2 linked regions of the Homo sapiens genome follow. The protein of the gene in region 2 interacts with the protein of the main gene of each other region in a pairwise test. Each region holds a gene or a part of one and is shown on either strand. Other genes may lie near its edges.

The links. Proteins that work in one complex are often made in the same cells at the same time.
Region 1: the proteins of CDK14 (region 2) and SEPTIN8 interact in a two-hybrid assay, tested with the Homo sapiens proteins (one study listed by BioGRID).

The regions. Positions count from the first base shown.
Region 1 is NC_000005.10:132,750,319-132,753,239, reverse strand, and holds the end of SEPTIN8 (septin-8), read left to right. Parts: exon of another isoform or gene 1-269; coding exon of another isoform or gene 270-374; exon of another isoform or gene 375-1,043; coding exon of another isoform or gene 1,044-1,058; coding exon 1,059-1,224; coding exon of another isoform or gene 1,225-1,322; 3' UTR 1,323-2,116; coding exon of another isoform or gene 2,117-2,383; 3' UTR 2,384-2,421; downstream 2,422-2,921. Other genes in the region: CCNI2 (cyclin-I2), read right to left, coding at 270-374, 1,044-1,322, 2,243-2,383. UniProt on the Homo sapiens protein: Filament-forming cytoskeletal GTPase. May play a role in platelet secretion. Seems to participate in the process of SNARE complex formation in synaptic vesicles.
Region 2 is NC_000007.14:91,110,238-91,117,394, forward strand, and holds part of CDK14 (cyclin-dependent kinase 14), read left to right. Parts: intron 1-2,304; coding exon 2,305-2,444; intron 2,445-7,157. UniProt on the Homo sapiens protein: Serine/threonine-protein kinase involved in the control of the eukaryotic cell cycle, whose activity is controlled by an associated cyclin.

The sequences.
Region 1 (2,921 bases), on a different chromosome or scaffold from region 2:
CATACTCCCTGGCTTCAGGCCCAGAGGAGAAAAAGGGAAGACAGGGTCATAGTCTATCAGACCACCCTGACCTCTACTGACCTCAGCCTGCCTTTCCCCTCTCCCCTTTATTTTTTTTCCAAGGGCTCAGTTGGGAACTTTTTCTCAGTTGCTCTTCCAGAGCCACCTTCCCTTTTTACAGGATTCATAACAAGCCAAAGAACTCATGGTAGTCCAAGCAAGGAGGTTTCACACTATGCTCTGAAAGCCCCGGGGTGGAGGCAGAGGGGCTAGTTGGCAGGTGACACAAAGTTGTCTGTGCAGGAGGATGACTGAAGACTTCTCAGTTGCTGCATTACAAGTTCCTTGCAGCAGCTGTACTGCATATCACCAACCTGTATTAGAATAGAGTGGCCATCTTCAAGCAGAACCATCATACATTCTAAGAAATTGGCAATTGAGTGCCAAAATGTTAGCATGAAGCAAGTTCAGGAAGGTCCAACCACCCAACTAAGGACCACTAATCCTACCATCTCAGGGACATCCATTTCCAACCTCAGTAAAGTTGTCATTAGTCTAACTATGCATTCCATCCTAACCTATCTGTTCTGAGGGATTCTGACACACCCCTCTCCTCCTTGTGCCCCCACAATGCTTGCCTCATGGTACCCCTGTACCTGGTACCACACACTCATACAAAGGAGAGGTGAAGGAGTTTAGAATTTATGCTCCTCAGTATTAAGCTCAGGGTTGCTTCCTCCTAAGCCAGACATACCCCTGACTCCCCACAGTCCTCTTGGCTACAAGGGCTCCCATTGAGATAAAGATTCTCTCACTCTCAGAGACCACCCCCATTGGTCCAGTGAAGGGAACACATGTCCCATCTCAAGTGCATAGAGCGTGACCAAGTGTGGAAAGCCTAGCCTTTGGGCAGACTCTTTCCAGGGTTATGGCCAGAACATTTTCCAGAGGCTACAAGGGCAAAGGGTACCCCTTTGGGGTCAGAGTGTGTCAGCTAAAGGGGCAAAACACAGAGCCTGGTCTGGGGCAAAGTTGATGTCTACCTGTGCTTTCTTTAGCAGATCAGATATAGGAGCACACCAGCCGGGCATGAGCCTCTCCAGCTCTAAGGTGATGATGACCAAGGCCAGTGTGGAGCCCTTGAACTGCAGCAGCTGGTGGCCCGCCATACAGTGCTGCAGCTGCCTGGTCAGGGATGCGACGTGGAGGGAAGGATTCCTCTGAGGCAGCAGCTCCAACACATGGGGCCAGCTCAGGACCACCAGGGCATGGAACTGGAGACCATGGTTTTTAATGTTAGAACAGAAAACGCCATACTTTTCCTATATCAATGATCAAAAGTGCAAACAATTTAAATTTCCATCAGGGAACATCAAATGTTGCCCAACCCTTTTCATTCCTATCCATGGCTCCGTAAGGGGCTTGAGGCTTAATGCCCATCCTGTGGCCAAGCTGAGCTTCCACTCCGGGACCAAAAAAAAAAAAAAGTCTGCTTTGTGACATCATCGTTATGAGCGGAAAGTACCTAGATGACAATGTTTCCATTCTGAAAAATAGAAACATACTATTCAAGACCAAGGTAGCAGAAAAGTTACTTGTATCTGCTTATCATAAGACGAAACTCTGCAACTTGGCAACGGTGGCCAGTTTTCGTAATGAAACAGTCTTTAGTAATTTAATCTTCATGCTTCATAACAAACCAAAACCCCATGAGATTTCCACATTGCATAATTTTGCCTTACTAACAGAATCATATCCTTAAGGATGACCATCATTCCCCCAACTAAAACAAATACAAACTAATGTATGATATTTTTTTAAGTGCCAGATCAATATGGTCTAAAGCTTCAATAAGGATTGTGTGTAGGTGAATAAAGACAGCTAAGTGAATGTGTGTAAAGTGTAGCAAAAGCAGACAGATATTTATGTACAGTATTCATAGAATGGAAAGTTAAATATTTTTGCAGTGTGTATTTAAAAGAGAAACTCACCATAATAGTGCCGTCTAAAAATCTTTGTAAAGTTAATTTAATGTCCTTTAGAAGTGGGAGTCTGGTGGAACTGTGTTGGATTTAAGATACCTTTTCACTCTTCCGTATGTCATGAGCCTTGTGCGTCACCTCACTGTGGTGCATGTGCAAGGGCGTGTGCACGCCTGTGCTTTGCCATCCCATGTTGTAAACAGCTGTTCCAAAGGCACAAACGAGTTTAGGGTAGACTCTGTAAACACCTCCTTACTCACTATAGTCAAGAAGTCCAGCGGCGTCCCAATATAGAGGTCCCAGTGCAGTCTGTCCAGAATAGCCAGCTCCATCCTCAGCAGCTCATTCGGGGAATAGTCAGAGCCATAGTGCTTTGTGAAGTCTTTTACTTGTGGAATAAACTGTAAAAAGAAAATAAAGAGGCCAAAGCCCTACATCATGTCATAGTAGCTTTTGTTTTCTTACCCATGGGGACTGGGCATTCATGACCTTAGTGGAGTTGTCTTCCTGTGGCCTGCCACAGAAAATGCTTCTGAAAGAAATACTAAACCAGATCTTGGCTATCTGTCAAATCCTCAGGTAGTTATGTAGTGAACATCACATGGTCCCCCTCTGAAACCGGGTCTTGATCCCCCAGCTGCATGCTAGCTCATACCCAAAGGTGCTTTGGAGGCTGGGGCTGTGCCATCTCCCCTGTTCAGCTGCAAGAACTCACCCCAAGCTTTCCAGGAGCCATGGGTTCTGCCTCTCCCTATTCCTGATCCCTACCGTGGGTACTGGGCATAGAGAAAAAAACTATGCTTTTGAGCTTCCTAGTCTGTACCAGACACATTGATAAAACCTCCTATGGGTTTTTTAGCATCGCAACTGCAAACACATTTCCTTCAACCTTGATTGAAGGTGGTTCAGTTCTGGAAAAACTATGGCTTTTCCCACAGA
Region 2 (7,157 bases):
TATGTATTAACTAAATATCACAAATGAAAATATGATTATTGGCATATTAAAGTGTAGTCAATTTAGTGGGGAATGGGACTATCTTATATTGATGAATTCCTTATATGAGGCATATACTGTATTTAAATATAGTCAACAATTTACTGCAGAAACAGAGATACAACTATAAGTGTTTATAATTCTTCGAGATAATGAAACCATGCTTCAGATGTGATTCATGGCTTCTTGGAACTGGAGGGACTGCAGACATAATGTGGTTCATCACTATTTTTCAATAGATGAGAAAACCAAGATCAAAAATAGTATGTCTTGCTTTGTATTTCATGTTTTTTATACTCTTGACTTCTGAGTTAAGTACTTGTGCACCAACTATCGCAATCACCTTTCTCTTCTTGTATTTACATGCAATGTAACAACATACAGTTTGGGCGATTAATAATATTCCTTTTTTTCTTTTAATAATAGTTATTTGTCTGAATTTAGGAAAATGATAGCAGTATTAAGCCTGAAACTCAGATCTAGTCCTAATCTGGTTGTTCTATTTTATCAAAACTATATAAAATTGATATGAACATACTGTTCACCATAATTAACTATGAACTGTACATTCAATATAACTTTTAACCATGAAGCCTATCTCAAACTTTGCGTTTGATTTTTTAAAAATATGAATGAAAAGTTGTACTAGTGATAAAGTCTTGGGAAGAGGAAGGAATAATATGAATGGCCCTGTGCCCTCTTAAAGGGGAAAAAACTGTGAAGAATTTTGAGAATGCTTTCGTTCCCTGTGGACAAATTTCTCTCTTCCAGGGAGAGACAGTTAAAACCAATCCATTGATCCATTTTTTTCGTGAACAGCCATTGCAGCAGCCACACATTGAACCCATTTGTGAGGCCTTCACATAACAAGATGTAGAGAGAAAGTCTCTTAGTTTGGATCTTTGTGTAATATTTTTCTTTGCTTTTCCCCTTTTTCCTTCTCTACCCAAATCCATTACCTCATCTTCTCTTCATACCCCCATCCCCAACAATTTGAAATAAATACTAAAGAATTGGTTGAGGAGGGGAAGGAGGAGATTGTTGGTCATTGAGGAAATATGTTTGTTGGCTAATTGTGTCTTGAGTAGCTTCAAGGATTTTTAAAGAAATACCTACTGGAAGGTGCAGCTCTCCCTCACCCACTTCTGGCTGCCTCTGAGAGTCACTGTATATATTGCACCGGGTTTCAGAAACTGGAGAATCCATTGGGAAATGCCTTTAAAATAACCTGTGAGAGAAAGAGAGCATGGCATATGCAAACCACTTTAGAGTCAAGAAGTTCTGGATGGATTGGAATCTCCTCTCAACTTGCTACCCAAGTGATCCACTGCCATCTCTGACTCCTACTTGGCTTCCACCACTACAAAATAGCAATTGTTACCTTCTCAGACTATAATAAATACGAGTGTTAAAAGTGCCTAGGAAAGTGCCTGACGCATGTTCAACTATCCAGAAATGCTAGCCATTATTAGGAATACTTTTATTATCATTATTATATTAATTATCCAGGCTTGATTGCTCTGAGTAGAGAAATAGAGGTTCCATGAAAAGCAAGGCTGAGCTGGACTGAGAAGTGCTGCTACCCATTTGAAAGCTTATACCACATGAAAGACTTTATTATTACGCCTTTTTCTGTAATCTTGAGACACATATTTTCTATCTACTGTTGTTTTAAAGGTCATCTTGAATTGATTCAGCCCCGTATCATCTAAGCACATCCCCTTTGCTAACCTGTTTATTAATATTATGATAGTTGATATTTGACAGGGCACTGTTTCAGTAATGTTAATTCATATTCAATGCAAGAAAATATAAATTCTTAGAGGAAAAGAAACTTTAGTAACTGGAGAATTTAATAGCAGTTTTATTTTAATTCTTTAGTATTTGTTATTAATTTTCTATAAATATATCCAGATGTGGGTATAGTACATAGATTCTATTAACAAATTCTAATAATTATTTGATATGTTGTCTTCTGAAATTTTCTACCTCTGGACCTAGTTTTATCTTTTCGGAAAGTATCAATCCTTTGCCTATAGTAGAAATATTTTAAATCAATTATACTGTTATACCTAGAGTAAAAGTAAGTTTGAAGTAACAAATACTCTGAGAACCAACATGCATTTTGCTTCTGTTTATTTCAGCAGGTAATTTGTTTTTCTAGCCAGGAATAAATTGAAATCCAGAAAAATTAGGTAAGCTTTATGTCTTATTTAGTGGATTTTCTTGTTTGGTCTGACCTCTCTTTTTTGCTCATGTTTTTAGGCTCAGCTATGTGAACCATGCAGAGGACCTGGCCTCCAAGCTCCTACAATGTTCCCCAAAGAACAGACTGTCGGCACAGGCTGCCTTGAGCCACGAGTATTTTAGTGACCTGCCGCCACGGCTATGGGAACTCACCGACAGTGAGTATGACAAATCCACAACATCCAGTCCAAGCAGACACATCATTTTATTTTGGCATCTGTATGTAACGTGTATGCAGAGATTCACATATTTGTGTGTCCACAAACATAAGATAATGTATGTTTGTATGTGCATTACAGGTGTGTGTGTGTGTGTGTGTGTGTATGTGTGGAGAGAGAGAGAGAGAGAGAGAGAACAGGGGAAGGGGGGCCATGTGTATATATATTTAGTGGAATCCTGCCATTCATTTGCTAGCTTACCAGACACAGGAAGAAAATGGATTCCTTTTTTGCTATCTCTGCTCTGCAGTCTGCAGCTGTGCATCTTTGTATTTGATTATGTGTGTGTCCAAAAAAATGATCTGAACAGTCATAAAGGAAAAGGAAAATATGATTTACATATTTAGTGCTTTATGCATACAGTACTTTTTAACTGGCTGCAGTACACAGAGGAGCCGATGATTCATTTCTGTTTGATTCTCAGAGACCATCTTGGTTGTAACAATAACCTTAAAAAGGGCTGCTATGCAGCGAGCTGAGGAGCAGAGTTGGCAATTGGCTAATGCACTGAATTGACATGTACAGACTGAAGACATGTAATTCATTTTAACTGCAAATGCTCTTGGTATTTGTACAGACAGCTCTTCTCTGAATCTTTTAAAACACATTCCTGGGTGGGTTTTGTTTTGTTTTTATAAAAGTCTACATATTTATACAGCCTTTTAAAATTACATTTTAAATATTTGGGGGAGGATTTATGGCTGGGAGGATCTCAGATTTCTTCCAGAGTGTGAAACAGAATTCTTGTGAAATTTTGTAAAAACTATTGCCGTCAGAATATTTTTGTTCAATGGTGATATGTTCTTTCCAAAGAACAATTAGAGATATTTCTTCTATACTCTTTTCTGATTGCCTTAAAAATGAACATACTGCATATATACATTAATATTTATAATGTGTTTATTAATCCTTGGTATACATCACTTACAGTAGACATATGATTATTTCTTCATTATCTTGGATTTTAGACTTCTTTCATCCATCATAATATTGGATTCTCCTTGATGGCAATAACCCTTTATTTTGGAACTAAGTTCTAAGTGCAACTCCTCTTGGGTATTTCTATCCTAAATCTTTTTTTGATATCCCACATTTATTTCTCATTACTTTTTTTTAACCCTAAAGTCACTATAGATATATTAATCTACTACTCCCCTTAATGCTTAGCAAATCCTCCTTAACATTTCACGTATTTCCAGCCCATGTTTACTCAACACTCTGCCCTTTCTAAAGTCTACTCACTGACTATTACAACAGCTATCCTCAATTTTTTTTAAATTAAAAATTAAATCCCTATGGGAAAATAATTTTCCTATACTGAAAACAAAAATGCTGTAAATAGGCTCACTAGTTTACGGCTCATCACACTCAAACATATGGTTTGTTTTCCCATTTAGTGTAACTTGTAACTTGGTATCACTCCTCCTTGGTGACATCTCAATCCCATCTGACTTGAAGATTGAGTTTAAGCCAGGATTTTGATGGTCTATGAATTCTGAATTCTGTAGTAGTACTTTTCTGTTAATATGGACTTATTACCCACTTGCCACTTAGTTTATCAGCCAGTGGTTAAATCCAGTTTCTATCAGTGAGTAAATGCCTACACATTATCACTCGGCAGCAGACTGCCAAGGGAGACAGCCTTGTCCCCGTCATTAACAAGCACAAAGTATGCAGAACACCAGAGGGGAATTAAAACCACAAAAAATACCTCAGGGTGGTATTTTTAATATGAGAATTTAATTTGTAATTTTACAGATTAAGAATTTTGGCTGCATTAATCCCTTTATCAGCTCACAGCAGGCTATTTGCAGAAGCATAACCGTAAGGCGATATTCATTGGCAGAAACACGTCTTTGCATAACGTTAAACATCAGGAGCAGTGAAACCTTTTGAAGGGGGGAGAATAAAGATGAAAAATCATTATATTTTTAAACCAAGATTCTACTAAATGCCTCCGGTAACAATTTTGAGTTACAGAAATGCTATTTCTGTGTCTAGAAGATAATCATTATGAGGCATAAATCCAGTTGCAAGAAAGGACAATCCCAGTATTAAATACTATAGTCATTTCCATTTAGAACAACGTGGCTGTACTTGTAAACATGTTTACAAAACAAAGAATTCCCAGACTTTGGAGACTTAGGGAATTGGTTTCTTTAAGTGAAATGACTGGTTTGGGTGACTTATTATCTAGGTTAGTATTCTGCAGAGTATATTTAGAAGTTTTTTAAATTTTTATAATTAAATTTCATATTAGCATAGAGTCTTGTAAAAGTTCACCATCTGGCAAAGGCAGCAGTGGCAGTGGCAGCAGTAGCAGCAGCACCTGTAATACCCTTACGTATTTCTTTTTTAAGGAGATTTGGAAGGAGATCCACCTGGAAAGAAGTGTTACAGAACCAGTAAATGGATTGTCTTAGCAACCAAGCTGTAGTTTAGGAACCTCGCTGTCTTAGTTTGGTCACACTGCAATAACAAAATACCTTAGACTGGGTGGCTTAAACAGCAGACATTTATTTCTCTTGGGGATGGGAGGTCCAAGATAAAGGTGCCAGCAGATTCGGTTCCTGGTAAGGTCTTTCTTCTCAGTTTGTGAAGGGCACCTTGCTGTGTCTTCACAGGGTGGAGAGAGCAATCTCTTCCTCTTCTCACAAAGCCATTAATCTCATCATGAGGGCCCCTCCCTTATGAGTTCATCTAACCCTAATTACCCTCCTAAGGCCCCATCTCCAAATGCCATCACATTAGGGGTTAGGGCTTCAACAGATGAATTTGAGGACGGACACAATTCAATCCATAGCACTCTCATTCTTAAAGATGGCTCATAGCACTTTCTAAAGAATTTCCACAAGAGGAAAACACTTATGCAAGCAGGAAGCAAAGTCAGGTTAAAAGGAGAAGATGGGAACAAAAATAAGTTACAAGTAGATTTGAGCCTTCTTGGCCTAGTGTAATATGTCAGACCCCATGAGAAGGGCATCAAGTGTGGTTGGAGCCTGAGTAACACAGAGCCCTGCAGTCATTTCATAGATTCGTACAAAAGTGAAATTACGGGCTTATGTCAGACTCTGGCTTTGGAAGAATACATAGTAATGTAATATCTTTCTTTAGTATACTATTCCTTAAAACCTCATCAGGTTACATAGTACCAAAATTTAGAGGTAATGTATTAGTGTGGCACTGAAGCAGGAATTATAAAAGCAGAAAGCAAGAATAATGGTACAGTTATCTGGGGATCTGGCTGTTAAAGCTGGCTAATTCTGGTGGCACCCTGTCATTCTCCCTCTGTCCTGAAACCCCAACAGCTTTGTCCCACTTCTTCTCAAAGATTTAATTGCAGGGAAGTAAATGGAGGGCTGATTTAGAAGAAATTCATTACTTTTCCCAAATACACCACAGGGCATTCTCCTGCATATACTATCAAGTTACATAAATAATTGAAGCTGAACTACCCTTGTCAAAGTAAATGAACAAAATACACTTCATAGCACAGAGTCCTTGATTTTATTACACTCATTTGCTAATTCACAAAACTCAAATTCAGTGAAAGAAGGCCAACAAATCGGTACAGTGTGAAGAGCACTGAACTGGGAATCAGACCACCTGGATTGCAGCTTCAGCTCCACTGTTAACTAGCCAGGGAACTTTGGACAAGTGCCTTGGTCTCTCTGAGCTTCCCATTTCTCACTTAAGGAGCAAGTGAGGTGGGCACAGTAGTCTCCAGGGACCTTTCTAGCTCTAGAGTTTGTCGATTTTCCCACATATTCCTGTATATGTTCTGTATATCATCCTAGAACAGCATAATGCTCTTAATGTAGCTCTATGCTGTCTTTTTAAAAATAAAACAGGTGCACCCATTTCAGATTTAAGATTTGCTACCTTCAGTTCGTAGACTTTCATGCTGTTTTGAATCCTTTACAACCAGGCTTTTGTGTCCACAACGCCTGGCTTTCGAAGTCTCTATCCATTGGTCTTTTCCCAGCCTATCGAAGATTCAACACAATTGACAACCATCTCCTCCTACTAATACTTCTTTCGCTTGGTTTCCAGGACAGTATTCTCTCATTGCTTTCCTTTAGTTTAGAAAACTAAAGTCTCCTGTTCACACTCCTTTGCTGATTTCTCCTCATCTGCCAGACCTTTCACATTAGAGTGTCCTGGGGCTGAATCCTCAGATCTGTCTATCTGCATGGACTCCCTGGAGCCTAGATGATCTCATCCCATCTCATGATTTAAATATCATCTATACACTGGCAGTTTTCAAATATCCATCTCCAGTCCTGTCTTCCCTGACTTGACTTGCATATCCAACTGACACTCAACATTTCCATTTGACCATCTAGTAGGCCTCTCACACTTAATCTTACCAAAACTGAACTCATCTTTCCCCTCAAACTTGCGCCTTCTCTAGTCTTACCGTTGTCAATAAATAGCAGCATCATTCTTCCAGTTGATGGAAGGTATCCCTAATCATCTTTTTTTGGTTCTACTCCACATTCAGTTCTTCCACAGACCGTATTGTTGCTACCTTCACAGTATATCCAGGATCACGCACGCCACTCCTCACTTCACTGCTATCACGCTGCCCTCAGTCACTCACCATCTTTCACCCACATTTTTACAGTTGCCTCCTACCTGGTTTGCCTGCTT